Homo sapiens: one gene and its partners. The protein of the gene in region 6 purifies or fractionates together with the protein of the main gene of each other region. This does not show direct contact. Each region holds a gene or a part of one and is shown on either strand. Other genes may lie near its edges.

Region 1 (5,150 bases), on a different chromosome or scaffold from region 6:
AGGCCCATGCTGGGGTTCCTCCCAAGTGGAATTACTGACTTAACATTTAGCTTGGGATCCTGAGACTTCCATCACACAGTTTTCTCATTGATTCGCAGCCAATAATATCTGTTTTAAAAACATCTCAGGCCGAGCGCTGTGGCTCACACCTGTAATCCCAGCACTTTGGGAGGCTGAGGTGGGCAGATCACCTGAGGTCGGGAGTTTGAGACCAGCCTGACCAACATGGAGAAACCCTGTCTCTTCTAAAAAAATACAAAATTAGCCAGGCGTGGTGGCGCATGCCTGTAATCCCAGCACTTTGGGAGGCTGAGGCAGGAGAATCGCTTGAACCCAGGAGACGGAGGTTCCGGTGAGCCGAGATCGCGCCATTGCACTCCAGCCTGGGCAACAAGAGCAAAACTCCGTCTCAAACAAACAAACAAAAAACATCTCTCTGCTCCTTGGGGCCGGGTGCCAGCTCTGCTATTGGAGGCACTGAGCGACCTTGAAGCAGGCATGTCACTCCTCTGTGCCCCAGTTTACTCATCTGTAAAGTGGGAGAGCTGGGGCAGACAGTGAGCTGGCTGAGGGCAGGACTGTGTCTCCTCAAGCCCATGGCCCAGGGCTGCCAGGTAGTAGTTTGTATTCGGTAAATGCTGCTGGCCCCTAAGTGTGAGCGTGCCCTGCAAACTGCAGCGTATGGTGGGACAGCCCTGCACGGCTACCCCTTTCCTGGGTGACCTTATTTGGTTACGGTCCTATCTGAAGTAGGAAAGGGACACTTTAGGCTGTCTCTTAGCTCCCTCAAGGCCCCACAGCCTGGACTAGAGTTGCCAGAAATACTTGGTCCATTCAGGCCAAAGGGACTGTGAGGTTGCTGGGATGGTGCAATCAGTCTTTGTCCATGATGAACCCACAGGGTAGACCAGGGGTTGGGCCAGCCCAGTGCCCTGTGTAGTTGAGCCCAGGCCCCAGGCATCCCATCCCGGGCGGTGGCCTCAGGTGGAGGTGGGGCAGCCAGTTGCCAGGGATGTGTTCCAGCGGTCACCTCTCACCAGCCCCGGCTGCCCATCAGCTGTTCTCAAGTCCAGGCAATGAAGCCTTCCTGCCAGGAAATTCCCAGAGTTTCTGTGCCATGAAGTCAGCCTGTGGCCATCTTGGGACACAAGGCCGGGTGCCCTGGGGAGAGTACTCTGGGCCCTTGGCCAGGTTTGTCTGAGAGTCATAGGCAGCCTGATACTAGTGGAGCCAGCCAGGGAGGGATGAGGCCCAGCCGCTGCTGGCCATAAGTATATAAGGGCCATGTGCTGAGTGCCTACTATGTGCCAGGTTTTGAAATCAGTACTTGATTTATTGAAACCCTCTCTTTTAATCCTCAAGGTGCCCCTATGAGGCACGTACCATTTATTGTTATTGCCACTTGACAGATGAGAAAACAGAGGCTCAGAGAGGCAAAGTGGCTTGAAATTCAGTGATTGGTCTGGGATTTGAATCCACAGCCATGTTCTTAAGGGCATGCTATGCTGCCACCTATCCTGTTTATTTCCGGCACTCATTGATTCTTCAATGTTTGACTCATTAAATCCATCAGTGAGCATCTTCTCTGTGTCATGCATGGTTCTCACCTCTGAAGATGTAGCTGTGAGCAAAACTTCTACAGGGAATGAGTTCACAGCAGAGGGATCAGCTAGAGCAAAGGCTCAGAGGTGGGACCGTGCGTCCTGTGTTCCAGGAATACAGTATGGCTGCAGCAGAGAGCAGTGGAGAGAGGGCCTGGCAGTGAGGTCTAGAGGCGGCCGGGCTGGCTCATGCTGGATGTTTGTGTCCTCGGAAGGACTTTGGCTTTATTTTAAAGAGGATGGGGAGCCCCAGAGAGCACAGCAGGGAAGCCTGGGGAGTCTGATGGACATTTAAAAGGATCCTTAATGGAGAGAGTGAAGGCAGAGCCTTCCAGAAGGGTAAGAGAAGGGAGGATGGAGACCTGCCCTCCCCCAAGGGAGGCCACTCAGAAGAGGTAGAGTGTGGCCAGGGCAGAGAGCAAGAGAGGCTGTGGACACAGGCACACTGGTCCAGTGAGAGCCATTAGACACATTAGATTTAGCTTCATGTTGTCTTTAGAGAGGGAGCCAGCCTGGCCTCGCTCTATGATCTTGGACACATCCTTTCACTTCTGGGTCTCAGTTTCCCCATTAGTGTGATGAGGATGAGAATGCTTTTGTCCTGGGCACACTATGAGGGTGGTGCTGGGCACCTGGGTGCCTGGTTACCATGGGCAACAAAGCTCTATTCATGGGTGTGGTGAATGCATTGCCCACAGCAACTCAGGGCGGATGAGGAGTTTCCCAGCAGCCCCTGGTGCCCTTTCGGCTGAAGCCCTAACAACTGTGGGAAAATCCAAGTTCCAGCAGACCCCCTGAGCCCTCTGCCTTAGGACCCTCCTTCTAGGTGGTTCTCTGAGCCTGGCCTGAGCTGGAGGAGGGAGTGGCCAGTGCTGCAGCAGAGGCTGCTTCATAGTAATTGCAGCCAACAGTTATTGACTAGGCACTGTTCTGAGGGGTTTAGATGTGGTAACTGATTGAATTCGCCTAACAACTTTATGAGGTAAGTCCTATTGTTAGCCCATTTTGTAGATGAGGAGACTGAGTTTGAAACTGGGGGGTGTAATGGAACCTTCTCAGGACCCTTGAAGGGTAGGGCCTTTGTACTCGGGCCACGAGGGTGGGGTTTGTGTCTGGGTGGGAGCTGGGGAGGGACAGGACTAGGATTAGGCAGATCTGAGGCCACAGGAGTTGGTTGGGGGGTGGCTCCAGAGCCACTCCACTCCCTCCTACCACATTGACTGCCTTGAAAGTCCCCTAATGGCCACTCCCATGAAGTGTGACTGCTCTGGGCTCCCCGCAGGCGTTTTCTGCAAGGCCACCGCCCACCCAGGCCCCTTCCCCAGAGGGGCTGCAGTGCCTTGCTCCTTCCTTGTGGGAAGAGTTGGGATTGTCTGGCGTCAGCAGGATACTGCCCCTGGGCATCCCTCCCGGTCTCTTCCTGCGGGTTTCTGATGAAACAGCCAGGCTCCAGTAGTGGAGCCAGAGGTCAGTGGTGGAGAGAGGACCAGGAGCCAGAGGGTATAGCTGCTTTGGGGCTACTGTGGGGTCAGGGACACTTGTGAGGCCAAGCGTCCTGGCTGCAGGAGCCCTCACATATATGCCCACCCTTCACCAGGACATTGAGGGGTGCTGGGGGACAGGGGTAGCTTTTTGGGGGTGTCTGCCTTCGACTTGGGCTCCGCTACACAGGCCAAATTTGGATGTCCCATGTTTAGAGCTGTGTTTCTTTGGGACCTCTTGGGGCCTCAGTTTCCTCATCTGTAAAATGGGATACTGATAGTGCTTCCCCACTGGCCTCCTCTGACGGGCGCCAGGGAGAGGATGGGACGGAGCATGGTGTGCTGGGCACGCTCCTGCTGTACCCACCCACCTGGGAGAGGGGAGAGGCAGGAATGTCCTGGGGGTGTCCTTTGAGGCATAGCCCTGTCACCCCAACATCCTACAAAGGCATGAGAAGGCAGCGAGGACAGACCCCGACCACCTGAGCCCTCAGCAGCCCTGCCACACTCCCTGCTTCACCCCCTTCCTGACTGATCTGGCACATTCTTGATTCTCCTAGGGAGTGACCCAAAATCCCTCCCTGCCCTGCTGTGTCTCTGGGGTGGAAGGAGGCTGCCAGCCCCTCCTCTCTCCCAGCCTCAGGCTTGGCCAGGACTTAACAGGCAGGCAGAGAAGCAGCTTCTCCACTCTCTTCCCTGACACCTGTAGGCCCCTCCTGCAGGCACTTACCTCTAAGTGGACTCTCAGGAGGAGGCTCATCAGGGCTGCAGGGCTCAGAAAGAGCTGGGCTGTGGAGCTCTTGCCAACCGCCAGGCCCCTTCTAAGTGCTTTAGCGCCACCGACTGCATCCTCCCAGCAGCCTTGTGAGATGGGGATTTGTGGTTCCCAGTTTACTGATGAGAAATACTGATGAGAGATGGGTGTGGTCTTGTCTGGGGCTCCCTGGCTCCTGGATAGCAGCTCAGGTTCCATCCTGGGCAGGCTGGCTCTGGGACACCCCCCCGACCAGCTGCTGTGTGGGATTCACGGTGGGGCTTGGGCAGGGCGTGGGATCTTGGGGCCAACTGAGCCACTCTAGGCTTCCAGGGACCAAGGCCAGGCTGAGCTGTCTCTGTATCCTGAGAGAGCATGAACATCACAGAAGATGGGCCCGGGTTCGAATCCCAGCTCTGCCACTACTAACTGGGACCTGGGCAGGTGTCCCTTCCCGCTGAGCCTTCATTTCCTCACCAGCAAAATGGTTCGTGCCCCTGCTTTGGGGGCTGTGGAGGGTTGGCTCTTGTCTACTTGTTCATACCTGCTGTTGAGCAGCTGCTCTGTGCCGGCCTCTGAGGATGCCACTGTGAACAGAGCCTGTCGCTACCTCCAGGAGCTTGTGTTTAGGGGTGCCGTTTTGATTCCAGCACTTTCACCCAGCTCTGCTCCGGTACCCGATGAGAGACGTCGAGTGCCGCTTTCCACTCGCTTGGGTGCGTGTGGGGGTTGGGGGGACAGGGCTTTGTGCACGTACCCCTGGGTGGATGTTCCTGGGTGCACTTAGGGTGTGTGAGGGTGGGACCTCCCACAGTTCCCTGAGGCTCCACTGATGAGGTCCAAGAACCGCCTTCCTGCCCCCCAGCCCAGGCTCCCAGCAGCTGGGCCCTTGGCTTCTTGAGATAGTGACTGGCCTCACGGCAAGGACCCCCGCACACCACCTAGGAGAACTGCTGCTTCCCCTCTGTTCCAGGAGTGGCGACAAGCACAGTTTTTCGCTTTTGTTTTTGTTTTCTTCACTTTAAGTTCCGGGAAACGTGCAGAATGTGCAGGTTTGTTACATAGGTATACATGTGCCATGGTGGTTTGCTGCACCCGTCAACCCCTCATCTAGGTTTTAAGCTCCATATACATTAGGCATTTGTCCTAATGCTCTCCCTCCCCTTGCCCCTCACCCGCCCAGTAAGCCCCGGTGTGTGATGTTCCCTTCCCTGTGTCCATGTGTTCTCATTGTTCAACTCTCACTTATGAGTGAGAAGAGACCTGGACTCTGATCTAACCTCGGTCAAATGGAACTGTGTGACCTTGAAGAAG
Region 2 (5,150 bases), on a different chromosome or scaffold from region 6:
GGCAGAGCAAGTGTCTTCACATGGCCAGAGCAGGAGGAAGAGAGAGATGGGGGAGATGCCACACGTTTTTAAACAACCAGGTCTTGTGAGAAGTGTATCTCGAGAACAGCACCAAAGGGAGAACTCCACCCCCCTGATCCAATCACCTTCCACCAGGCCCCACCTCCAGCATTGGGGATTACCATTCAACATGAGATTTGGGTGGGGACACAGACCCAAACCATAGCATGGTGGTGCGGTGTGTTTTGTTGCTGTTCTTTTTTGGCCAAATAATTGCTCAAGGACTTTTTAAAAAAGAAATGTATATGCTACATAATTACTTCACAAATGGTTTGAAGATCTAAGTAAGTCAGACGTTTTGGCAAGTGTTAAAATTTAGTGTTTCAAGGTGAGAGAATGCTCTGTATAAGAAATGTTTAGTTAATTGCAGATCATACAAAAGTTCCTAATAATTTTTTTAAAGGACTTTGTAAGTTTTTGGAGGGAGCAAAATGGATTTCACAACAACCAACACCTCTCACCTCCCCATCTACAAGCTTCCTCCGACAGTGGTTACCAATAATGTCTGTTTTATAGTTATTTAAAGCTTCATAAGTACTTGAAGCCATGTATTCTGCTTAAAAGAAAAGTAGTTGATGGAGGCAACAGTGTTTCCAGGGATGTCATTAATTATCTCTTTTTCACCGACATTATTTCAGTTAAAGTTTTAAAAGACAGTTACTACCTCTAGGAAATAAATGTTCTTTTTGAATGATATCCTACCATCCCCCACCTCCTTTAAGGCAGTAATGCAGTTAAATGCTTCCGAAAACAAGGCCATGTGACGCTTAGTAATTGGTGATAGGACAGGATGCTTATGGTGGAATGAAGGAGCACTATTTAGGCAATATCATTGGAGTTGCTTTGAAATACTCAATTAACTAGTAATTCTGTTGCTAATGTTCTGTACAGATACATAAGCATCTCCATTTTTACTTACCTGTAAGAAGCAGGAAACAAATCATTGTTGAGTACCAAATCCATAGGTTAATGTGGTCTTAATAGTTAACTATTATATGCAGTATAAATGAAAGAGTCTTTCTCTTTCTGTAAGTTGCCCTCTTCTTCTCTTCTACGTCTCTTATCTCTCCCCCTGTATTTAGCTGACATATTTATTTTGACATATTTAGTTGATCTGCCTGCCTCAGCCTCCCAAAGTGCTGGGATTATAGGCGTGAGCCACCATGCCCAGCTGGGAGTTGGTTTATTAAGCCTAACATTATGATATTAAAAATTTGTCTTTGAAACGTCTAATCTGAGCTAGGGTTTTATGGCTGATTTTTGACATAGTGATACTGAGGAGAAACTCTTCCATTCAATCTGTAAAATTCTGAGATCATGTGAAATATTTGTGGCATAACTTTAATATTAGTTTTGGGCCACAGTGATAAAGATGCTTTAACTGTAAAATTAAAATGATCTGTTTCAGGTTTTTTATTGTTTTGCAGATCAGCAATTCATGCTAAAAAAGTGTCCTGCCCTACTTCAAGAAATGGTTAATGTAATCTGCCAACTAATAGTAATGGCCCGGAACCGTGAAGGTGAGGAGGAAATATAGTTAATTATGTTATACTTTTTCTTGCAAGCATATGCAGATTGTACTTCATATTTTAGGATTTATGGGTACTCAGACTTCTGTCGGCCAGTTCAGTGAGCTTCTTCAATTTTACTCATGTCTTTTCATATTTCTTTCCTATATTTTCTATTATTTAAAGTCTATATCACAGCTCACTGGGTTTTTTTTGTTCTTTTTTTTTTTTGAGATGGAGTCTTGCTTTGTCGCCCAGGCTGGAGTGCAGTGACAAAATCTTGGCTCTCTGCAACCTCTGCCTCCTGGGTTCAAGCGATTCTCCTGCCTCAGCCTCCTGAGCAGCTGGGATTACAGGCGCGTACCACCACACCTGGCTAATTTTTGTATTTTTGGTAGAGACAGGGTTTTACCATGTTGGCCAGGATGGTCTCCATCTCCTGACCTCGTGATCCACCTGCCTCAGCCTCCCAAAGCCCTGGTCACTGTGTTTTTGATTTTAATTCTTGTTTTTTTTTTTTTTGGAGACAGAGTCTCACTCTGTCGCCTAGGCTGGAGTGCAGTGGCGCGATCTTGGCTCACTGCAACCTCCGCCTCCCAGGGTCAAGTGATTCTCCTGCCTCAGCCTCCTGAGTAGCTGGCATTACAGGCGCATGCCACCACGCCCGGCTAATTTTTGTATTTTTAGTAGAGACGGGGTTTCATCAGGTTGGTCAGGCTGGTCTCAAACTCCTGACCTTGTGATCCACCTGCCTCAGCCTCCCAAAGTGCTGTGATTACAGGCATGATAATTTAATTATTTTATTGTTCAATTGTTTGCAAAGATTTAAAATTTCTCTTTCTTTGAATAATTTTTGAGTTAGGTCATTTTTTCTAACAGTGAATTTGAAATCTTTAACTGATATAAAAGTGATTCATATGTCATGTAATTTTTATTAATTAATTATAGACAGCATCTACCAGGGCTGGAGTCCAGTAGGGTAATCATAGCTCACTGCAGCCTCAAACTCCTGGGCTCAAGCAGTCCTTCTACCTTAGCTCTCCGAGTAGCTGGAACTACAGGTGCATACCACAGCACGGAGCTAACTTTACATTTTGTGTAGAGGTGGGATCTCACTTTGTCGCCCAGACTGGTCTGGTTTCCAACTCCTGGCTTTAAGCAATCCTCCCACTTCAGCTTCCCAAAGCCCTGGGATTACAGTCATGAGCCACATGCCTACAGGCACCTAGCCATTTTTTTTTTTTTGGTATGGAAGGAAAAGAATGAGGGAATTTCTGGTCAGTAATGGAAAGGAATGCCCTTAAAAAAGGATAGTGGTTATGGTTTGTTGTTACGGGTGATGTTGGTTCTTGTCATGGTGTCATATGTTGGTGATACTGATAATGTCTGATAATTTACTATTATTTGAGGTGAGGCAAATAATTTTTCTTTTAAATCAATGGTTGTTGCTGGAAAATGTTCATTAGATCGAGTTTGTATATTTTTAGTGTCTTCTCTGGTAACTTTTAAAGGAAAATCTTACTATGATCCTCAAATTTGAGGTGTTATGGATTTAGTGTGAATTTTGTTTTTGTGATGAATTGTATACTCCTGAACATGTAAAAAGTCCAGCCCTGTTTCTTTTTTTCCTGTTCTTTCTAAGAAAGGGAGTTTCGTGCTCCAACTTTGGCATCCCTAGAAAACTGCATGAAGCTTTCTCAGATGGCCGTTCAGGGACTTCAGCAATTTAAGTCTCCCCTTCTGCAGCTCCCTCATATTGAAGAGGACAATCTTAGACGGGTTTCTAATCATAAGAAGGTAATTCTTTGCTACTTTAAAGTCAGTTTTCAGCAGTTTGTCCTGTCACTTAAAGGTAACATGAATAAAAGTTTTCTGGAAATGGTTACTATGCATTTTTTAGATTTAGAATGTCTTAAATACTCTAAAACTTTCTCTCAGGTGGTTCTGTTAACATTTTCTTGACTAGGTAGCTGTGTTTTATAGTATTTTACTACTGTAAGTAGTTTTATTATTTTGGGGGTTGTTGCATTTAAAAAGTCAACAGTTAGTTCCTTATATTATGTTACCAAAAATAAATGTACTGTCTACTTTACAGTCATTTTATTCTTGGCTTAAGGTTGGGCAATTGTTTACTGGTTAAGCATGAACAACAAAAACATTTAATAAATCAAATAAAGACAGTTCTTATTTAGAATATATAATCTATAGTATAAACATGATAATGAATCTTAAGATATAACAAAAATTTGTGTAAATGAAAAACTTGAGGAAATATAAGAAACTGAAGTTACAATTCTAGTAGGAGATTTTAAACATTATTTTGTATATGATAGATAAAACTAGCAGAGAATAGACATTGGATTTGATAGTATATTAATGTAGAATTAATAAATGCATGTTGGAAATTAGTATCAGAGTTCTCTGTCCTTTTAAGTACTCATGTTCCCCTTATAAATTTGATTGTATGTTAAGTCATAATTAAAAACTTCAGAATCTAAAAGCAGAGATTTTACATGCCTCATGATCTAATCTGTGTCTTTGAAAGTGAAAAATAACTAGCACCAAACACCTGGAAAATTAAAGAACACGCTCCTAAGTAACCATTTTGCCAAGATGGATATTACTGTAGTAATAGCTATATTTTAAGAATAACAAAAATGAGAATATTGCATAGTAAAACTTTGAAGGTGCGTCTTTATTGAGGTTTATTTTTACTTTTATTAGGTAAAAGTAAACGTTTATTATTAAAGGTTTGTTAATAGTAAACCTATTAATTGCTAATTAAAGGTTTTTGTTATTAAAATTGAAAATAAACTGAGGACATCAATTGACAAAGTTCTTGGTTGAGTCAAGATTCTTATTTTTTCCCTCCAACTTTGTTTTTTCTAATTTAAAAAAATAAGCCTGTATTAACTTTATAATTTAAAAATTCTTAATTTAAATTTTCTTGGAGAAAAAGGTCATGAAATGCCATATCGTTATTTTGTACTTTGAAATGCACATTAATCAACACTTTTCTAAAAGTTGCTGGATTTTGTTGTGGTTAACATGTGAGTAATTTTCTTTTTATGAAAAGCTTTGTGAGTTAGGGAATTATGTATTTTCTTTTTTTTTTTTATTCAGTATAAAATTAAAACTATCCAGGATTTGGTGAGTTTAAAAGAATCAGATCGTCACACTCTACTGCACTTCCTTGAAGATGAAAAATATGAAGAGGTTATGGCTGTCCTTGGGAGTTTTCCATATGTGACCATGGATATAAAATCACAGGGTAAGTGGGAGGTTTCTCTGTTGAGCATTGCTTCCCTTTTGATAGATTGGTTCTCATTTATTTGACTCAGGATTCTCAAAACACTGTACTTAATAACATAACTTGTTATTAGACTTTGCAGAACTGTAGTTTACCTGTCAGATTTACTATGTTGGAAAATGATTTATACCTAATAGTTTGAGAACACTGATAGAGTCCTACTTTTATTATCCTCATAATGGGATGAAGTCTGAACACTCTGTTCTGTAGTTCAACTTTTAGCAATTTCTTAACTTTCCAAAGAATGATGAAGACTTCCAGGCATAATAAAA
Region 3 (5,150 bases), on a different chromosome or scaffold from region 6:
ATTGTCCAATAATCAAGGGAACCAACAAAGTTATTTGTTTTGAGACCTAATTAACTTTTATAAATCATAAATGTAATAGTTAACTACAGATGCAACCATAATCCAAACACCTTATGTAGCATTTTGTGTATTTCTTACCAGACCTCCCTTTTCTTAACTTTTTTTTTTTTTTTAATTAGGGACAGAGACTCACTACATTGCCCAGACTGGTCTTGAACTCCTAGGCTCAAGCAATCCACCCACCTCAGCTTCCCAAAGTGCTGGAAGTACAGGCCTAAGACACCATGCCCGGCCTCCCCACTTCTAATATGCATATTGTCATAATAGAAGTCTCATGTACATATAATTTTGTTCTCGTCTTTTTTTCTTGACCAGTATCTACAATATTGTTATATAATTTTTAGTTATTATTCCATAATTGACTTTACCATTTCTGTCTTTCTAGAAGTCACCTTAGCTTCTAGACTAGTGGATGGCAGGTACAAATAAAAATCCAGTTAATACTTTTGTTCAAACAGTGTAACTTTACCCACAGGCTGTGTTTTTCCCCCTTTGGGATAGATTACAAAATTTGGATGAATGGGTTAAGTAGTTTAAGTATTTTTAATAGACCTTAGTAGATATTGTCAGTTAGAATCTCTGTGTGATTACAGCATTGCTTGCTTTCAGCATTTTGGTTGTTGAAATTATTTTTCAAATATAATAGGTAGAAGTTAAAGCCTTAATGTTTTAGTTTTGTCTTTGGTTATTATGGGGTTGAATATTTTTTCATGTTTGCTAAGTTAAATTTCTCCTTTTTGTAAATTACCTGTTAATATTCTTTTGCATATTTAAATTTATATTGAACATCTGATATAATAGGATTTTCCAAAGTCATGAGAAGCTGTTGCCTAGAACTGGAATGACCTATTTTATATTATGCGAAACCTGTAGAAAAACCTGTAGAACCTGGGAAGGAGCTATTCTATCCCTGTATTCCATAATCTAGTCTACCTGGCTAAAAAATTATAGCCAACTAAGAAAGGGTTCTACATTCTGGATTATTTCCTTTTTTAGTGTTGAGAAAGTTGGTATTTTAGCCTTATGGAGACTATTAGCCTTACTGTTGAAATGAGCTGGCAAAGCCTTGTCTCTTGATACTAGTATATTAGACCCTAGAGTGTTTCTGAGTGATGGTTCTTGACTGTATTTACTCTCATATATAAAAGCATTTTCTCTTTAAAATTTCAATGAGCAGGCCAGGTGCGGTGGCTCACACCTGTAATCCCAGCACTTTGGGAGGCTGAGGCAGGCAGATCACCTGAGGTCAGGAGTTCGAGACCAGCCTGACCAACATGCAGAAATCAAAAATACAAAAAAATTAGCCAGGCGTGGTGGTGCATGCCTGTAATCCCAGCTACTCGGGAAGCTGAGGCAGGAGAATCACTTGAACCCAGGAGATGGAGGTTGCAGTGAGCTAAGATCGAGCTATTGCACTCCAGCCTGGGCAACAAGAGCAAAACTCCATCTCGAAAATAAATAAATAAATAAATTCAGTGAGCACTCTAGAAATGTGGTATTTAATAGATCTTTAGATAGCATACTTCTGCTTATGGTTTGTTATATGTCACTCATTCTCACATTCTCCTCATTTTGACTTTAGGTAAGAGCGCTACTACAGTGACCCAGGAGAATAGCATGTTAGCCCACTTGAGGGTCTCCAGGCTTCTCTAAGTTGTTAGCCTTTGGTGATTCCCTGGAGGCCCAGCTGCTGCTTTCTGTTAGCAGGTTCTCATTCAGTTATTTTTATTTACTCATTCATTTATTTAATCTTTCATTCATAGATATTTTTTGATCCTTCTCTAAAGGCACTGACAACTTTGAAATGTCACATAGGCCACAGGTGTATTTGCCAACTGCGAAAGGCATTTTTCATCCCTTTTCCCTTCTGAATTGACTTCTCCTTCCCACCCACGGGTCCCATGCCCTCATGCTGCCTTCAGTTGTCTGAAGTTCTTAAAGTAACACTACCAACGCCTGCTTGTCCCTAGAATAGCCTGGGTCCAAAATTGAGCTCCCTCCTGGCCTTCATCGAGCTTAATGTCTTTGTTCTCTTGGTAGAGTGATATCAGTGGTAAATAGAGGAAAATATCCTTATGTTAGATATTTTTCCAGGGAAGCACATTGCTACTTCTATTGCTATCCATAATGCCCTCCAGTATGACAGAGGAACAGAAGTTAGCAACTTGGTACCTAATTTCTCAGGCATTGCTAACTCCAAAACAATTGTAGATTTAGAAATCTGCAACTCTGGATTATACAATAAAGACTAAGATATGGCCCCTTAAGATATCTTTTAATTTGGAAAAACAACAACATGGATTCATTTAGTAATATTGAACATCTTTTAGGTGCTAGATATTGGTGATTAAAATGTTCGAGACATTCTTTTTATCTTTGGAATTCATATTTAGTGGTAGAAGGACATATAAACATGCTATTTTCTGCCAGCATGTAAATTAAGACAACATAGACGTGAGAATGCTTAGAACCCATTTGGAATTGGGCTGGTTTCACAGGGAAGGTGGTATTTATGCTGGACCTGGAAAGGTTGACTTGGGAAGATTGAGAGCAGATTTTATGGGTTAAGATTCAGTGCAGATTTCTTTTCTCTTTCACTGAGAGCCTGTGGAAGATTATAAGGTGGGAATACTGTAGTCAGATCTCTGTTTCAGAAAGTGGCCATGTGAAGTAAATTGGAGTGTGGAGAGTGTTGTCAGGATGCCATTTGAGAAGCTATTATATAGTAATTCCTGGACTGTGTAGAGGGACTTTGGGATGCTTTTGTTAGAAGAATAGGATAAAGACTTGTCTTGGGGCTGTGCTTGCATCGTAAGCCCACCATTTGCTGTTATGATTATTGTCTACATGCTTACTTTTAACTAGAATAGGACAGTGACAGAGATTATAGAAGACTGAAGCCCTTTCTCCTGCCATCCACTCAGCAGCATCACAACTACCGGCAACAGGGTGAAAGGTCTGCAGTGGAAATAAGACTCAGGAAATGATTTCAATACATAATGCAGAGAGAATCAACATTACTTCATGTGGGGGGAAAAGAATGATAGTTGAGAAAAGGCTCACAAGAGACTTTGAGACTTGGTAGGATTCACGAAACAGAACAGTCTGATTCCAGATTTCAGGCATGTAGAATGGGAGGGCCATAGGCAAAAAGGTGGGAAAGTGCAGAAATGACATGTTCAGGCCCCAAGGGTGCCTCAGGCTGGCTGGAGCACAGTTACTAACGGGACATTTGGGTAGGATGTAGTCCAGTGAGAAAAAGTTGCGGCATTGGTTGGATCCAAAAATGTACATGGGTCTAGGCTACTCTGGGCACACTGCCTGTGGGTTACCCTGCTTCACAAGGAGCAGCCAGTCTGCAATAAAAATAAAAATTAAAACATTAAAACAAACAAAGTGTACATGATCTAGATTTTTGGACTTTATACTGGTGGTGGTTAGAAACCACTAAGTATTTTGGTAAGAATTTTGTGGTCAAATCCATTTTAGGAAGACAAATTTTTAGGGAGCATCAAGGATGCACTAGAAGCTTTAAGAGCCCAAAAAGCAGGAATTCTAGGTATGAGGAGGCAGTTGCAATTTTCTATCCTTGGGCTACAGAGAGCTCAGTCATGTCAATGAGAATCTGAGAAGTTGGCCAAGGCTACACAGATACAGTGATGCGGTGGGAGCACGAATCTAAGACTTGCATGCTCTAAAGGTCATGCATTTTCAGTTCTACCTTGAGATCAGAGAAAATGAAGATGAGGCGGGAGGGATTTGAGGATTACAAAGTCAAAGGTGGAATTCAAGGGAGCATTTTCCATCGAGATATATGTAGAAGCCAATTTTCAGGGAATTACAGAGGAACTGGGTAACAGTGAAATGGCTTCTCAAGTTATTATAATGATTGAATGGTAGATTAACCTGGTCACTTGCTATGCAGATGTTTCATTTCCTGTCTAACTGTCCAAAAATCCTGCATCTAATATAATTTTTGCTCTCATATCTACCCCTTTTCTGCTCAGATGATTACTCGTTTTTCCCTGTAGGCTCCCCAGTGTTATTCATGGCCCTGAGACAGTGAGTGTGGAGCTGAGTGTCAGTTGGTGACATGTGTTTGGTCTTTCTTTCCTCACTGGCTCATTCATGATGAATTTTTATTAATCTTGGAGAAAGGCAGAAGTTGACTTTTGAGACAATTCTACCATAATAAGCTTAGTAAAAACACTAGGACTAGCAAAATCTTTGTATCTCTTCATTTGTAAAGTAAAACTATAGGCTTCATTCCTAGTAAACTTAACAAAATAAAATTAGCACCAATAAAAATATAATAAAATCTATATTATGTGAAAATATTTTAGTACACAAATACTACTCAATAATTGGCTTAGAATTTGGGGGTTGCCATTGAAGGGCATTCCTCAATTTTTTTTTTTAATTCTAGCCTTAGAAATTTTTTCTTCTGGAATATGTACATCTCTAGTCATATTAATACCAGTTGTGTGCTTTGTGTTTTATTCCTTATTAGGGCATCATTGCAGAATACAACAAAATCAATGATGTAAAGGAAGATGATGACACGGAGAAGTTTAAAGAAGCCATTGTGAAATTTCATAGGCTGTTTGGGATGCCAGAGGAAGAGAAACTCGTCAACTATTACTCTTGCAGCTATTGGAAGGGGAAGGTCCCCCGTCAGGGTTGGATGTACCTCAGCATTAACCACCTTTGCTTTTATTCTTTTCTTATGGGAAGGGAAGGTAAGTCATCTAAAATTTCAGCAGGAAACTTTGGAAAGTCTACTGAGGTTTGCCCTGAACTCATAAACCACATCAAAATATCAGAAATAAATCTATAGTTATAACTAAGTCAATACTAATTTTTTTTTACTACTGAAGTGAATTTAATTATTTTTCAGTTCAAAATGGTCACTAAGTAATAAAGATTCACTAAAGGTGTAATTAATTCAGTAGACATGGATTAAATCTATAATTCTGACCTCAGAATTCACATGGCCCAGATTTACCTCTTAAAATGAACAAGCAAAACAAATATGGTATTATAAACTCAAAGGAGTTCAGTGGGATGGGGGAGTGGGGTTGTGAGACTGC
Region 4 (5,150 bases), on a different chromosome or scaffold from region 6:
GGCTATTGATAGTCACTCTTCCTCCCAAGGGGAGCACAGGGTCGGGAGCTAAGGAGGAGGGTTTCCTATTCTTGGCTCAGAGCTCAATCCTGGCATGGAAAAACAACTCCTTGCTTCTCACAGCCTTCCTAGCTCTGTCATCCTGTTTCTCTCACTACAAGCTCCTTGAGGGCAGGGCAGGGTCTTATTTGCCTGTGGTTCTAGCATCTGGCCACAAGCCTCTGCACAGAGGAGGCACTCAGTAGATGATGGATGCATGAATGACTGCACTAGACTTTAATGGTAGCCTCTAAGGTTAGGGATGCAGTGCTAGAGCCATCCTGGACATGGAGCAGAAGGCCTTGAGGGACTTCTGAAGTTGGTAAAGCACCAGGCTAAGAGAAATACACCAGTGCCTAGGAAACTCTCAGGCATGACACCACCTCACATTTTCAAAACTTTCTTTGGGGTTCGAGATGTTTTCACTAAACTAATTTGAGAACCATCACACCATAAGCAGTTAGCCTACATATTTGATCGTGTTTCTTTTTTCTTTCAATGTACTCTCCCCAACTCATCCTCCCCTGACTAATGGCATCCTATACCATAGCGATACTTATACTACAACTGATGAACCATCATGGACACATCATTATCACCCAATGTCCACAGTTTCCATTAGGGTTCACTCTTGGTGTTACACATCTTATGGGTTTGGCCCAATGTAGAATGACATATGTCTAGCTAGCAGCCATGATTCTTTTTAACACCGACTCCAGTTCATGGGCTTATTTCCCATTTCCGGGACAGTTCCCTTGCTTGACCCTCCACGACAATAAAATAAATACTGAATCCAGTTCATGGGCTTATTTCCCATTTCCGGGACAGTTCCCTTGCTTGACCCTCCACGACAATAAAATAAATACTGAATCTAGTTCATGGGCTTATTTCCCATTTCCCAGACAGTTCCCTTGCTTGACCCTCCACGACAATAAAATAAATACTGAATCCAGTTCATGGGCTTATTTCCCATTTCCCGGACAGTTCCCTTGCTTGACCCTCCACGACAATAAAATAAATACTGAATCCAATTCATGGGCTTATTTCCCATGTCTGGGACAGTTCCCTTGCTTGATCCTCCACGACAATAAAATAAAAAGAGGTAATCTTAATTAAGAGTGCCTCCGTTCCAAAAAAAAAAAAGAGAGAACCTCTGTTCCAAGATGCTCTGCCTGTGGTCCTTACCTTTCTTTTCTCCAGTGAAGGGCACAAAGTCCTCTCTGTCTTTCTGTTCCAAAGCCTCCTTCTCCAGGTACATGAGGAGGTGCTCGCGGTCAAAGGGGCCGGTGGCTGCCTTCTGTGTCTGGTCTTTCTGTCGAAATCCAGCTGGCAGCATGGCACTCTGACAAGAAAGAGGTGTGAGCAGGAAGGAAGATGTCTGCCGGCCTGTACTTTGCTACTTCCTCTTCCACCCCCACTCACTATGTGCTGGGGAAGCAGGAAGGATACCTACGCAGAATGTGCGTGTGAGCTGAGGGCTGGGGGCTCTGGGACGCCTCTGAGGCCCTATTTGTTATAATGTTCAGTGCTGAGAGGGGGCTCCCAATGAGCTCAAGCAGCGCATAGATGGCTAGAGCAGCCTCTGAGTTTCTGAAGCTGCCTCCTAAAACATGGAGGCAAAAGACCTCTTTCCTTGTAGATCATGCTTAGGTTTGGCTAGGGCTGCACCCAAGGTGCTCCCAGGCAGAAACATGAGACTCTAACAAGGAGCTGACATGGGGAACCCCTCTCCTGCAGAAGCAGTAAAGCTGATAAGTAAACACTATGATGATGTTAATGCCTGCTTGATAAAGCTTTCAGATTCCTTCCTTAATTTAAAAAAACAACAACAGAATATCTGTATTTTTAAAAGTAAATACCATATCCAAAGTATCTGACATATCAGAATACCATATACATAATTTTGTTTTAGTTATATTTTTATTTATGGTAAAATCACTATTTTGGATGGCTCCGATTTTTTTTTTTTAACCGTAATTGACTTTTTATTTAAAAAATTACACGGAGCAATTTCCAGCATATCTTTTTTTATAAAAGTACTGCTAATTCTAAGTTTAAGATCATACCAGCAGGTCTGAAGAAAGTGCTTGCTAATCAAACAATATAACAAGCGACTTAGCTTTTCAAGAACTTATAAAAACATTAGAAACTCCATTGAAATGAACTTGGTATCATGATTATAGTCAGTCTAATCTATTCTTTGTTATAAGTTCATCAAAGAGTTCACATTATTTGTGCATTTGAAAGAAATGAGATATTTTTAAAAATCTGCGTTTGGGGCCGGGTGTGGTGGCTTAGGCCTATAATCCCAGTACTTTGGGAGGCTGAGGTGGGCAGATCACCTGAGGTCAGGAATTCGAGACCAACATGGCCAACCTGGCGAAACCCCGTCTCTACTAAAAATATAAAAATCAGCCAGGCATGGTGGCATGTGTCTATAATTTCAGCTACCTGGGAGGCTGAGGTAGGAGAATCGCTTGAATCTGGGAGGCAGAGGTTGCAGTGAGCCGAGATCTTGCCACGGCACTCCAGCCTGGGTGACAGAGTGAGACTGTCTCAAAAAAAAAAAAAATTCTGCATTTGGGCCTAAAAACCTGGTTTAAATACCATCTCTGACACTTACCAGTGTGGAATCTTATATAAATTACCTCTCCATGTCTAGGGGTTAATAAAGTTTACCTCAAGGGCTTCTGTGCCCAGAGAAATATATGACTCAGAAAAAACTCAGTAAGATTTGCTCTCTTTTCCTCTTTCCTTCTTTTTCCCCTAAACAAGACTAGTCCTTTCTCAACCAACGGAAAATATTTCCCCCCATTTACATTGGGCTGGTTTTTGAGAAATACATTTGCTGTATCACACTGTAGTGGCTATGAGGTTCTCTATGAATTTGTAAACACAGGTGACCCAGAACCAATCAGAGGAAGAAAAGAAAATGTGCATTCCGAGCTAAGGGATTTCTACCATTGTTTAAGGACCAAGCCATGCCATTTATCCATACTATCATTAACCACTCTGCTTCAGTTCCATGTCACTAACCTCAGGATCTAGGTCATCTAGAACATTTTCCAACTGTTTCAGTTCCTCTTCTGAGAGTTTGCCAAGAAGCTCATCTTCATCAATGTTCTTGTATTTCTCCAGCTCTTTTTGAAAGGGGAGTGCCATGGCTTCTTATAAGCCTTTCTCATGGGCCATGCACATTTAAATGGTCCAGTTTCCTGAGACTTCAGAATACTGTTAATAAAAAAGAAACACAATAAAAAAGAATCTCCGTTCTGTAAACAGGACTTATTAACAGGAGACAGAAGTATGCCTCCAATGGAGCCTACTGTATTGAATGAATAATTCAACAAAAAGGTAATATTCCCTTCATTTGCAGAGCAACCTGACAGCTTACAAAGTGTTTTCACATATTTCACTTATTTTGATCTTTACAACAATCCTGTGAGGAAGCCCGTGACGATATTATCATTCCCATTTTATAGATGACAATTCTGAGGTGAAAGTGGCCTAGTGCCTTGCTCGAGGTCACAGAGCTGGGATGCGTGAGCCCCGCCTTCTGATTCCCAGCATAGTGGGTGCTTTTCCCTTATACTACTCTGCCTTCCCTGGCTCTCCATAGAAAAACAGGGGAGAACAATGCACTAATTGTAAGGCAGTTGTAAGAAGCATACTTGTGTCTTTTCAGGGAGAGAGTGATGTGAAGAATACAAAATGGGATTCATTCAGGAACGAGAGTTTGGAACGTCTATGTGAGAAAGCATTGTCCAGTAACTCCCCTGCAATTAAACTAAGTGCGATTCTAAAATCCTGGCCACATGATCACTCTCTCTATTTTTCTCCTTGCTTTGTTTTCCATTCTATTTCTAGTCCCATTTCCTTTTTGTTCTACGTATTCATTCTTTATACCCTCAGACCGTTCTTCTCTCGACCCTTATTTTTTATACCACCTCACTTCTAAATATTCACCCAAAATGCAATTTTTACTCAATCCCTTTCTCCTTGCAGAGGATTCTACAGATCTTCCTTAGAAAGATAATACTCATTCAGGAAACAGTAATGTACTTCACTGACTGTGTTTCTCCTTAGGAGGTATTACCACCAATCACATCTTTCAGGCCAATAAATATTTGTTATATACCTACTATTTGCCAGGCATAGTTCTAGCAAACAGAAATACAAAGATAAACAAGATATGCCACCTTTCCCCAAGAAGATCACAGCTTAGTGAGACAGGCACACAAATAGCAATAATGTCATAAGTATTAGACGTAACGTATAAAGTAGGTTTAAAAACACATGAGGAGGCCAGGAACGTTGGCTCACGCCTGTAATCCCAGCACTTTGGAAGGCCAAGGCAGGTGGATCACCTGAGGTCAGGAGTTTGAGACCAGCCTGACCAATATGGTGAAACCCCATCTCTACTAAAAATACAAAAATTAGCTGGGTGTGGTGGCATGTGCCTGTAGTCCCAGCTAGTCGGGAGGCTGAGGCAGGAGAATTGCTTGAACCCGGGAGGCAGAGGTTGCAGTGCTGAGATGGCATCACTGCACTCCAGCCTGGGTGACAGAGTGAGACTCTCTCAAAAAAAAAATTATATTTATCAAAATGCCCCCTCTCCCCAAGATCACAGCTTAGTGAGACTCTCACACAAACAGCAATAATGCCGTAAGTATTAGACATAATGTAAAAAGTAGGTTTGAAAACACATGGGGAAATAATCACTGAGTAAGTGGGGGAAGTTTGAGGGGAAACTGTGAAAAAGAGGCTGTGTTTGAACATTGAAGGAGGAGGTCATAAGGTGGACATGAATGGGCAAGTGTCATTCTAGGAAAAGGGAACAGCACAAAGGGGTACAGGATAAGACAGTAAATGATATGCTGGTAGAGCAGGCGGCATGGCTACAGAGGGGGATTCATGGAGGAAGGGAGAGGAAAGAACTAAAGACGAGGGTGGGACATCTGTGAAGGGCCTTCCTTCTGCGCCTTGCTAAGGGACCTGAACTTTATTCTGTTGGGAATGGCAAGCCACCACAGCTTCTTAAAGTAGGGGAGTGATCTGAGCACGCCAATCTTTTTTTATGAGTTCAAATCATAAGAATGAAGAATGAGTTG
Region 5 (5,782 bases), on a different chromosome or scaffold from region 6:
AGCTGTGTCGTTAATCTGGAGTGGTGGAATGCAAGGTGCATGTTAGGGGTGACAAGAGATGAGGCTTTATTGGGTTTGGGAGAACAGAGGTAAAGAATACAAAGGGCCTCACAATCTCCATGCCAAAGAGTTCTAACACCCAAGCTACAGAACACTAGTAACAGATTTTAAGTAGGAGAGTGGCATGCTCAGGAAAATATTTCAGGAAGCTCATTCTAGCAGGACAGACTTCTAGAGGGTAACAGTACAGACAAAGAGATTAATTATGGAGCCACTACTGTTAGTCCAGGTGGGGATGAAGATGAAAAGATACCGATTCAGAGTCAAGAAACAGCTGAGAGGTAAAAAGCAAAAAGAACTATCCGCTATGGCAATGGGAAGAGGAGGTCTTCTTGATCTCAGCTTGGGCAAGTGGATGAACAGTGATGACCAAGACAGGCAACACAAGAAGACAAATCCATGCAATCCTTCCAACAACATGAGACACAGGGGCCAGGAACTGGTTTGTTCATGTTTAGAGAATGGGGATGAAGGAAGCACGAGGGAAAATGACACAGAGTTTAACTTCGGACTTCAGTAACCTAAGATCCTATTTAGTGAAGGTACCGAGTGGCAAGTGAGAAAGTGTGGACTAAGAGAGTCCTTAGCTTACAGGTGGCAACTGAGGGCAAACAGAGTATGTATAATGAGATAAGCTTTAGATACTAATATTTAAGTGAGTGAGTTCAAGAAAAGCCAGAAAGACAAATGAAGAATTAATCAGAGAAGAGATTAACCTGAAGATAGAGTAATGCTGAAAAAGGTAAGCAAAGAGGAAAAAATGTAAGAAGGGTGGGGAGGGTGAAAACTACAGTGAAATGTACTGTACAAAGCAACATTTTCTAACAGAAGTTATTCAACACAGAAATGGACTACCCTGTAAGGCAATGAATCACATCATGAAATAAATGGTTCAGGCAGAAGCTACAGAGTCCTCGGTGAAGAATGTTCACTCTAAATAGAGAAGACATGCATTGCACAGGCTGCTGCCATGTCATCTTCCCCAAGGTCTCTACATATCTTTTCAGTAATCTGCCCTTTTTCAGAATACCAGATTATGTTCCTACTCAATTCCAACCCTCCTCCCTTGCTGACCATTTTCTATCACCAGTCCTTTACTTCTTACTTTTTCCTCCACCTCCGTATGTCTATAACCTCAGATGGAAAAACACTTTCCATTTATCCTATTGTCCCACATCTCTATTTTTCTCCACCTTCTACTACTGAACATGTCCACTTCCCTACAATCTATTCACTATAATCCCCTATAAAAAGATTTATAAGTCTATCACTCTACAAAAATAAAAAAAATAAAACTACTGACAAAGGACATCTGATTTGCGGACAGCTTGTTCCAGTTGCTGCTTACTCAGTTCTCCAGTCTCTTGATCTCTTCCGCAGTTTTATGGCAGAACTGACCAACCCCTCCTTATTGCAGTTATTCCTCTCGCTTTTGTAATGAAGCAGAGCGGTTTACAGGAAGGACTCTGGACCGAGAATCAGGAGATCTATGTTCTAGACCCAATTAAACGACTAATTACCTGTGAGCCTCCCCACCTCCACTCCTACCCACTCCTCAGATCTCAGTTCTTGTGAGACACTCTTAACACCCAGACTAGGTTATGTCACTCCAGTACCCACTTTGTGAAAACCTATTCTCCTTTGTAGTGCTTATCACAATTACTTAATTATATAATCAGTAGATGGATGGCTATCTTTCCTACCCACACACCAGACTGTAAACTCCATGAAGGCAGAGAGCATATGCCTTGCACCTCATCTGTGCAAAATAAAAACCTGTCAATTGAGTTAATGTTGAAACAGATGTTAAGACCACTTCCTGAGACTGCTTGCATTATTTTTATTATCCTAAGTAATAAAATTACTAGCATTTTAGTTACTTACAAAATTATCGGCAAAACTTTAAACAAAAACTTGAAATTTGGTGAACTACATATGAATTTCCATATAAAATAGATCATGAGTAACAGGAACTTGTTTTCCAAAATAGTTATATTTCTCTTGCTCATCTAAGAGACAGTTGGATCAGTAACCTGCATTTCAGCACCAAAATGTGTTCTAAACCATATACGGACTGAATGTATAAGGGTACATCATGACATAAGTGATGTTTAATTTGACATTAAAACACTATTGTTTACGTAGCTGTTTAGAGAATACCGAGTGGTACTTTACGTTTAAAGCTGTTCTTTAACATTGGCAAAAGCCATGAGCTACATACACACTCTGCAAGGAAATGAAAAGTTTATCAGTCAAGTTACCTTGCAGTGTGATTTTAAATATTATTTCATATAAATCAGGGAAAAACAAGTACTGGTTCAGCGGTAAGACTGCTTTCAAATGTAAAAATATCATATCTCACACGAGTGAAAGTTTTGTCAAGTTTTATGGTACACCACCTTGGTCAAATAATTTTAACAGATTACATGCTAATTTGCCTTTCAACTGCTGAGTGTATCCTGCTCAACAATACCGTAAGGTCCTTCCCGGAAGGCTTGGCATTTTTGTTCGTTGGTCCCCTTAATAGGAATGCAGGTGGTTTCAGTAATCTATAATATTCCAAAAAAGAACTGAAAATGGCTTTTGAGGTTCAATGTTTATACAATGCCATCTGAAAACATTGTACAAGTACCTAAAATCTGATGCTTAGACAATTCCCTTGGTTAAGAGTGGTTAATAGGCTGTAAATATAGTTGTAATCCCCAGGAAAGAAGAGGCATTTCATAACGGAAACACTAACAGATACGATCACTCCGAGCCGCTCTCCAAGGCGTCCTCATCGTTAAATCAACACCAGGGGTTGTGAGCGGGCAATTGTGCCCCTCTGACACCCCCGCTCTTCCGCAGACTCGGGCTCCAATCCCCGCGCGAGGAGTCCCTCGAGACTAGCCAGCTCTTCCTCGAGACTTCGGAAGCTGGGAAATCCCTGGCCAGGGAACCAGGAGCTCAAGCCCCCTCCCCTTTCCTTTCCTGAAAATTAATGAATTGGCCGTCTGATTGTTTATTTAATGAGGTGTGTAGTGGCCTCTACTGGTGCTAGTGTGAGCACAAGAATGTCCCACTCTTACAAGTGGGATGAGCCTGGGGGAGGGGAGAGAGGCGAGGGGTGAACCTGCCTCCAGGTACAAAGCTGGGAACTAGACCCCTGCGCCCCCGACCTGCCCCCCGGCAGCCGCCCCTTCCCCGGTGGCGCCCCCTCTCGCCCTTCTCCTCCCCACCACGCGCGATCCCCTTTCTCTTCGGCAACCGGAGCCGAGGCAGAGAAGTTCCTGCACGTTTCCTCCTGGATCCTAAACAAAAACACCGCAGCCGCGGCCGCCTGAGCCGGTGCCGCGCCCCCGCGAACCCCCGGGCCCGCGCCCGCCGCTTACCTGGGGACTGCGGCGCGGAGCCGCTCCTGGCGGCCGCGGCGCCCGGCGCCCGGCGCCCGAGCAGCAGCAGGCAGTAGAGCCAGAAGGAGGGGGTGCTGAGGAGTCGCCGGGCTCCCCGCTCCGCCGCCATCTCTTCCCCGAGAGTGAGCGGCAGCGGCGGCGACAGCGCCGCGGAGCCCTTGCCTCCTTCCCTCCCGCGCGCCTCAGCCGGTCCCTCGCTGCAAGCTCGGCTCCCGCGGCCGCCGCTGCTCCAGCCCAGCCCGGCCCGGCCCGGCCCGCGCAGCCCCTCTCGCTGGAGGGGAGACTCCAGGGCGCCTCCCTCCTGCAAGGGGGCGGGGAGGGGAGGAGAGCGAAGAAGGGGAGTCAGTACATTCCGGGGCGGGGGGGGGGGGGCGGTGGGTCGGTCTCCAGGTTCCAGGCGCCGCCACCCGCCGCCGACTCCGGCTCCACACACCAGCGCGAGGGGGGCGGAGACCGCGGACGGCGGGGGCGGGGGCGGGGGCGGGGGGCGGGAGTCCCGGGCGCGCACACGCGCACGCGCGCGCCTCGCCCGCACCCCCTCGGCTCCGCGCGCGGCCCGCCCCCGCTCCAATCCCGGCTGCCGCCTCTCGGGCCGTGGCGGGCCCGCTCCCCTCCCCCTTCTCCCCGGAGCCGCTGACGGGTGCGGGGCGCGCGCGCCGGGCGCTGCTGCTGGCGTCAGGGAAACCCCGGAGAAGCGGATCCTCCTGCTCCTCCCGCCCGCTCGCCGCAGCCCCTCGGCTCCGCGCGCCCCCGCCTCCTCCTCCTCGCCTCGGGGACAAATTCCCCCCTCACCTCCCCAGATGCCTCTGGCTGCAGAGACCTGAGGGCGAGAGGCGCTCCGAGCTCAGGCTGGTCCGGGAGGCCGGCGTGGGCGCGCACCTCTGCACAGTCCGGGCCTGGAGCCTCTATATAGGGCCTCAGAGGAAACCGAAAGGCCTCCGGGAGGAAACCTGGGTGCGCAGTGGGTCGGCCCGGGGATTTATGTGCTCGCCAAAAACAATAGCGATCCCGCCCGACTCTTGCTGGGCCCTGGCGCGGCTCCCGTGGGAGGGGGCCGGCCGCGCAGCCGCTGACCTCCGGCTCCCAAGCCGGGCCGCCGTCGCCGCGCGCTTCCCCCGGGCAGCGCCGGGACCCGCCCGAACCGCGCCCCCACCCGCATCGCTCGGCCCGGGTCCAGGGAACTAGGCACAGACAAAGGTGCCCGCTGTCCACTTCCTCAGCTCGTGCGGGGGCCCCGACCGAGCCCTGGGACTCCCCGGGGCCAGTCTTCTCGCAGTAACTGCTACGTTTTACCTGTACCTTTGCGGGACACTTGGCGTTTTCCTACCTGGGAATCACGTCTTTCGCTGATAAACCAAGGAGCAAGTGGGATATGATTTTAAACCACTTAGTAATCGTGAGGCAGCACCCAGGCTACACAAAGTTAGGAGAAAGCAGTTTGTAGTTCCACTGCTGATGAGACTATTGATCATTTTATATACTGCACCCATGAAAAATTTTTAAAGAAAATTTATTTGTATGATTATGCAAGCAGAGTCACGTTTGGTGGTTGATAGGCGTTGGGTTTTATTCACTCTTCTGTGTAGTCGATAACCGAAATGTCTTGCTTCCCACAAGAAAATGGCTATTTCACTAACATATCCCTCTGTGCTTTCTCATAGTTACTTTCCAAAGATATTTTATTCTAAAGCGCCAAAATGAACAATGTAAGACATGGATTAACGTCGGGAGGGAAGAGCTCAGAATCTTCATAAAACCTTAAATCATCAAAACGGTGAAATTAGGAATTCTCATGCTAGTTCTTTGAAACAATTGACTTAATAGAGGAAACACATGCTTATGGTTTTTCACTAGGGAAACCATTTAAATACCTTTTTGTTTTGGTTAGAGTTGTTAACCAGCAAAAATATTTCCTAAATACCCGTGATTGACCTGTTAAATTAGAAATAGATTACCTCCCAATTACTTCACAAGTATTTGCTTAATTAACCTTTAATAATCACATCATTATTCAGTTTTCTGAGATAATTAATGAGAAAAGCTCTTTGAAAACTGTAAATTGCCTTGCAAATGTTAATTTCCTGATATCTTTTCTAAGTCTGGAAAAATTTCATTATATTAAACCTATAACGTGTAATATGACTTCTGAGATGAAGCTTACATTTATCTCCAAGTTTTGAAAAATACATGAGTTGTGGCTAATAACAGACTGATTTTCATATATGACTTATATGAACTGTCTCACTAATTTATCAGCCCACTGTGTATATCAGGTTAATATCAAAAAGTTTAAAACAGTTGTATATTTCTGGCTTCTGATTAAATCACAA
Region 6 (5,150 bases):
GGCTGCAGTGAGCTATGATCGCACCACTGCACTCCAGCCTGGGCAACAGAGCAAGACTCTGTCCCTTAAAAAAACAAAAAAAACAATAACAAGAACAAAAAAAAAAGACAGCCCCCACAACAAAGAACTGTCTGGCCCCAAGTGTCAACAGTGCTGAGCTCAAGCAACTACCATCTAAAACAAAACGTGATGTTAGACAATTTTCTTAACGGTTCATAAACCAATCCTGAAGGCAGTTCTAGAACAAATGTTCCAAAAATATTTTTCCCATAGTAGCACTTTTACAAAAGTGGACTCCCCAAGACACCTGCTTGAAAAGACACTTTATTTAGATTTTTTTTTTCTTCTAGAGACAGGGTCTTGCCTTGTCACCCAGGTAGGAGTGCAGTGGTGTGATCCTAGCTTACTGCAGCCTCTGCACTCCTAGGCTCAAGCAATCCTCCTGCCTCAGCCTCCACGGTAGCTGGGACCACAGGTAGGCACCACCATGCCCAGCTAATTTTTTTTTTTTTTTTTTTTTTTTGTAGAGACAGGGTCTCACTATGTTGCCCAGGCTGGTCTCAAACTCCTGGCTTCAAGCAATCCTTCCACCTCAGCCTCCCAAAGTGCAGGGATTACAGGCGCATGCCACCTATATCTGTACCCAGCCTATTAGACAATTAAATTCTGGTGTTTTTTCTGAGTTTTATTATTAGAAACACTTTACTCACCTTCTGCTCTACAAATGTACAAAAAAAAACCAAACTACAGCCAAATAAACCAGTAATTTTTTCTTCTTCCTTTTTCTTTTTTTTGAGACAGAGTCTCGCTCTGTTGCCCAAGCTGGTATGCAGTGGTACAAACTCAGCTCAATACAACCTCCGCCTCCCGGATTCAGGCCATTCTCCTGCCTCAGCCACCCAAGTAGTTGAGATTATAGGCATACACCACCATGCCTGACTAATGTTTATATTTTTAGTAGAGACGGGGTTTTGCCATGTTGGCCAGGCTGCTCTCCTGGCCTCAGATGATCCACCCGCCTTGGCCTCCCAAAGTGTTCAGATCACAAGCATGAGCCATTTCGTCCAGCCCTTCTCTTTCAATAACAGATAATAATTTGAGCTGTGCCCATTATGCATCAGGCCCTGCTGGGGTTGTACCCACAGAAGACACAAAAGTCAGCTGCTATATGTCTGCAAGTAGCTAACATGTTACCCTTCAAAGAGGAGGCAGTACACTGAGCATGCAAAAAAAACAAAACAAAACTATTTCAGGGAGTGGGCTGGGCACGGTGGCTCACGCCTGTAATTCCAACACTTTGGGAGACCACAGAGGGTAGATCACCTGAGGCCAGGAGTTCAAGATCAGCCTAGCCAACATGATCAAACACTGTCTCTACTAAAAATACAAAAAAAAAAGAAAATTTAATGGGCGTGGTGGTGTAAGCCTGTAGTCCCAGCTACTCGGGAGACTGAGGTAGGAGAATTGCTTGAAGCTGGGAGGCAGAGGTTGCAGCGAGCCAAGATGGCACACCACACTCCAGCCTGGGCAACAGAGCGCGACTCCATGTCAAAACAAAAACAAAACAAAAAAAACTATTTCAGAAAGTATTATTAGATGAGTTCCTATACTAAAGTTATTGGGACTCAAAATTCAAAAGAAGAAGTCCATCTAATTGAGAAGGGAGGGTAAATCAATGGAAGTAGTGTTTGTTACAGCCTTGGGGGATGAGCAGGCTTTCATCAATTAGGAAGAAGGAAGGAAAGGTACGTGGCAAAGATCCAGAGGTAGCAAAGCACAAGGCATGTGTTGTGCTATGAGCCTCTTTGCTTATCATTTTATTTTGGGAACTCTCCCTCTCCACATGGAAGGGCTGTCAATCACATCTCTTCTGCCATGGGAGAGGACATGTGACCCAGGCTGGCCAATGAGAGAACTCTGCCTCCTGGGCCACAGTGATTGGTTCACGGGTGTGAATAGGACCAAGCCAGGCTAATCAGAGTGCTCTCTGAGACTGACTCTGGCTGTGCAGAGAAATGCTGCCTTGTCTTTTCTCTGGCACCTTTATCTATCAGGATGTTATCAGCCCAAAGCTACGGAGCCATGTAGGGAAGTACCACTGAGAATGATGTTAACTCAGAGGACAACAGGGCAGTGGGTGAAACTGAGTACTGACAACATTGCTTGATCTCCTGGATCAATCCACACCTGAAGCTAGTCCCCAGATTTCTGAGATACATGCAGCCCCAAAGTTCCCTCTATTTACTTAGGCTACTTTTTTTTTTTTTTGGAATTGGAGTTTCACTCTTGTTGCCCAGGCTGGAGTGCAATGGCCCAATCTCGGCTCACCGCAACCTCCGCCTTCCAGGTTCAAGCAATTCTCCTGTCTCAGCCTCCCAGGTAGCTGGCATTACAGGCATACACCACCACGCCCAGCTCATTTTGTATTTTTAGTAGAGACGGGGTTTCTCCACGTTGAGGCTGGTCTCGAACTCCTGATCTCAGGTGATCTGCCCGCCTCGGCCTCCCAAAGTGCTGGGATTACAGGCGTGAGCCTCTGCAACCGGCCACTTAGGCTACTTTAAGACAGATTTATATCCCTTGCAATTGAGAGAATTTTGACCACCATAATTAGGGACTAATGAATAAGTGAGTCTGGTTAGCGTTTGGGAGGATTCAAGGGGAGAAATATGATGTGTCGTCCATTGTAGGGTAGTTAATTACTGACACTGTCAAGGAAAAGAGAAAATGAAAACGCCATGCCACCAAGGAGAACATCAACCTGACAATTCAGGAAAGGAACAAAATACTGAGGAATTGGTTAACAGGCTGGAAAATAAAATATGAACCACAGCCGGAACTGCCAGGGAGCTCTACATGCCATTACCATCAACACCCACTCCCTCGGCCCACTGCCCACACGTAGAAGTCCCTCCCTGCATGCAAAGGGAAACGGCGTTAAACACACACCAGCCACAGGAGGTAGAGAGCAAGGATGACTTGCAGGGGGGCTGACCAGATCATGTTAATGTACGTGGCCAAGTCCATGAACCTCTGAGCGTCCACAGACATGAGGTTGACAATCTCCCCGACCGTGGAGGATTTTCTGGCTGAATTGGTGATCACCAGGGCCTGTGGGACAAAGGAGAGGGAAGGTGGGTGAGTGTGGCAGCTGAAGAGGCCTGACTCTCCCTCCAGACCCACGGAGAGGAAGGAGACTCTCAGGGGCAGAAATGCCGCAGATCTCTCCTCCTCCCCTCCCGACCTATCTGTCTGCCCAGGACGCCTGTGTCATCTCAAAGCCCACATTCTTATCCGCGGTGCTCAGTGCCTCCCAACCTTGAACTCATCAGTTGGCAAGGGACCCTAGGTGTCCTCGAAACCAGGGCTTCGCATGCTTTAATGTGCACACATGCGGCCGGGTTTTTCTGGGGGGAGTGGTGGGGGGTGGGGGGAGTTGTTTTGGATTCTGCAAGTCTGGGGTGTGGCCTGGGATTCTGCATTTCTACGCTTCCAGGCTGTGTCAGTGCTACTGGTCCCAGATCCCACTGAAGGACTGAGGGTGTGGGCCAGGGTCTCTAATCCTTGGCATTCTTGACATCTGGAGCCAGATAATTCTTTGGGGGGCTGTCCTGCGCACTGTAGGAGTTTTAGCAGCAATACCTGGCCTCGACCCACTACATGCCCTCGCCCCCAGTTGGGACAACCGAAAATGCCCCCAGATATTGCCAAACGTGCCCTGGTGGGGGAAAATGTCCCTAGCCCTCAAACATGATTGCACACTATCACCTCGTGAGTTTTAAAAACACTAAGACATTAGCAGGCGTGGTGATGCATGCCTCTGGGCCCAGCTACGTGGTGGGCTGAGGTGGCAGGATCGTTTGAGCCCAGGAGGTGGAGGCTGCAGTGAGCCAAGATCATGCCACTGCACTCTAGCCTGGGTGACAGAGCGAGACCCTGTCTCAAAACATAAAAATAAATAAAAAACAAAAACAATGACACCTGGGTGCCACCACAGCAATCGCAATTTCACTGGTCTGGTGCAACCTAGGTGTCAGGAAGTTTTTTTGTTTTTTCAGACAGGGTCTCATTCTGTCACACAGGCCGGAATGCAGGGATGCTATCAGGACTCACTGCAGCCTCCAACTCCGGGGCTGAAGTGATTCTTTTAACTCAATCTCCTGAGTAGACGGGACTACAGGTACGCACCACCATACCTGGCTAATTTTTTTAAATTTTCTGCAGAGCCAGGGTCTTGCTATATTGACCAGGCTGGTATTGAACTTCCAAGCCTCCAGTGATTCCCCCACCTTGGTCTCCCAAGCTGCTGGGATTACAGGCATGAGCTACAGTGCCTGGCCTGCATCAGTTTAAGCTCCCCAGGTGAGTCTAATTCACAGACAGGCCTGAGAATCACTCCTCTAGTTCATCAAGTACCTGCAAGACTGTCTCTTCCTAACCTAGGAGCCAAGCAGTTTCCTTGACCTCGAGACAAAAAAAAAAAAAAATTTATAGGGATCAAGAAGGTAATTTAGGTCCTTTGAAATTGGATGTACACAAATGCCTGCTACATACTCTTACCATGCAAGGAATGTGCCACCTGCTCAGTTCAAATTAAGAGTGACAACAGGCTGGGCGCGGTGGCTCATGCCTGTAATCCCAGCACTTTGGGAGGCTGAGGCAGGCGGATCACCTGAGGTCAGCAGTTCAAGATCAGCCTGGCCAACATGGCGAAACCCTGTCTCTACTAAAAATACAAAAATTAGCCGGTCGTGGTGGCAGGCGCCTGTAGTCCCCGCTACTCAGGAGGCTGAGGCAGAAGAATCGCTTGAACTCAGGAGGCAGAAGTTGCAGTGAGCCAATATCATGCCACTGCACTCCAGTCTGGGGGAGAGAGTGAGACCTGGTCTCAAAAAAACGAAAAAAAAAGAGTGACAACAAGCTGAAACACAGAATGTTAACAGCAGAATGAGGATCCAAACTTGGATTTCCCCACAACAAGGGCCACTGATCCATCTAAGAAACTCAATTACTCACAGCTGATACACAAAGACATCTACACGCCCACCCTTGAAATCAGCTTTCCTAACGTACAATGCCTGATGCGTGCTGTCCCTGCCACCTAAGGTCACGGAAGCTACCCTCATCCTACTGCTCCAGAAGCTGGGCTG

The links.
Region 1: the proteins of ABCC1 (region 6) and FADS3 purify together in Homo sapiens (co-immunoprecipitation; one large-scale study listed by IntAct). This does not show direct contact.
Region 2: the proteins of ABCC1 (region 6) and SEC63 fractionate together in Homo sapiens (co-fractionation; one large-scale study listed by BioGRID). This does not show direct contact.
Region 3: the proteins of ABCC1 (region 6) and TBC1D9 fractionate together in Homo sapiens (co-fractionation; one large-scale study listed by BioGRID). This does not show direct contact.
Region 4: the proteins of ABCC1 (region 6) and TMOD2 fractionate together in Homo sapiens (co-fractionation; one large-scale study listed by BioGRID). This does not show direct contact.
Region 5: the proteins of ABCC1 (region 6) and NEO1 fractionate together in Homo sapiens (co-fractionation; one large-scale study listed by BioGRID). This does not show direct contact.

What each region holds. Positions count from the first base shown.
Region 1 is NC_000011.10:61,884,174-61,889,323, reverse strand, and holds part of FADS3 (fatty acid desaturase 3), read left to right. Parts: intron 1-2,564; exon of another isoform or gene 2,565-2,583; intron 2,584-5,150. UniProt on the Homo sapiens protein: Mammals have different sphingoid bases that differ in their length and/or pattern of desaturation and hydroxyl groups.
Region 2 is NC_000006.12:107,901,059-107,906,208, reverse strand, and holds part of SEC63 (translocation protein SEC63 homolog), read left to right. Parts: intron 1-1,487; coding exon 1,488-1,580; intron 1,581-3,210; coding exon 3,211-3,365; intron 3,366-4,691; coding exon 4,692-4,839; intron 4,840-5,150. UniProt on the Homo sapiens protein: Mediates cotranslational and post-translational transport of certain precursor polypeptides across endoplasmic reticulum (ER). Proposed to play an auxiliary role in recognition of precursors with short and apolar signal peptides.
Region 3 is NC_000004.12:140,679,264-140,684,413, reverse strand, and holds part of TBC1D9 (TBC1 domain family member 9), read left to right. Parts: intron 1-4,570; coding exon 4,571-4,799; intron 4,800-5,150. UniProt on the Homo sapiens protein: May act as a GTPase-activating protein for Rab family protein(s).
Region 4 is NC_000015.10:51,764,493-51,769,642, reverse strand, and holds part of TMOD2 (tropomodulin-2), read right to left. Parts: intron 3,271-5,150; 5' UTR 3,202-3,270; coding exon 3,076-3,201; intron 1,382-3,075; coding exon 1,225-1,381; intron 1-1,224. UniProt on the Homo sapiens protein: Blocks the elongation and depolymerization of the actin filaments at the pointed end. The Tmod/TM complex contributes to the formation of the short actin protofilament, which in turn defines the geometry of the membrane skeleton.
Region 5 is NC_000015.10:73,050,455-73,056,236, reverse strand, and holds the start of NEO1 (neogenin isoform 1 precursor), read right to left. Parts: upstream 3,775-5,782; 5' UTR 3,562-3,774; coding exon 3,432-3,561; intron 1-3,431. UniProt on the Homo sapiens protein: Multi-functional cell surface receptor regulating cell adhesion in many diverse developmental processes, including neural tube and mammary gland formation, myogenesis and angiogenesis.
Region 6 is NC_000016.10:16,046,103-16,051,252, reverse strand, and holds part of ABCC1 (multidrug resistance-associated protein 1), read right to left. Parts: intron 3,112-5,150; coding exon 2,950-3,111; intron 1-2,949.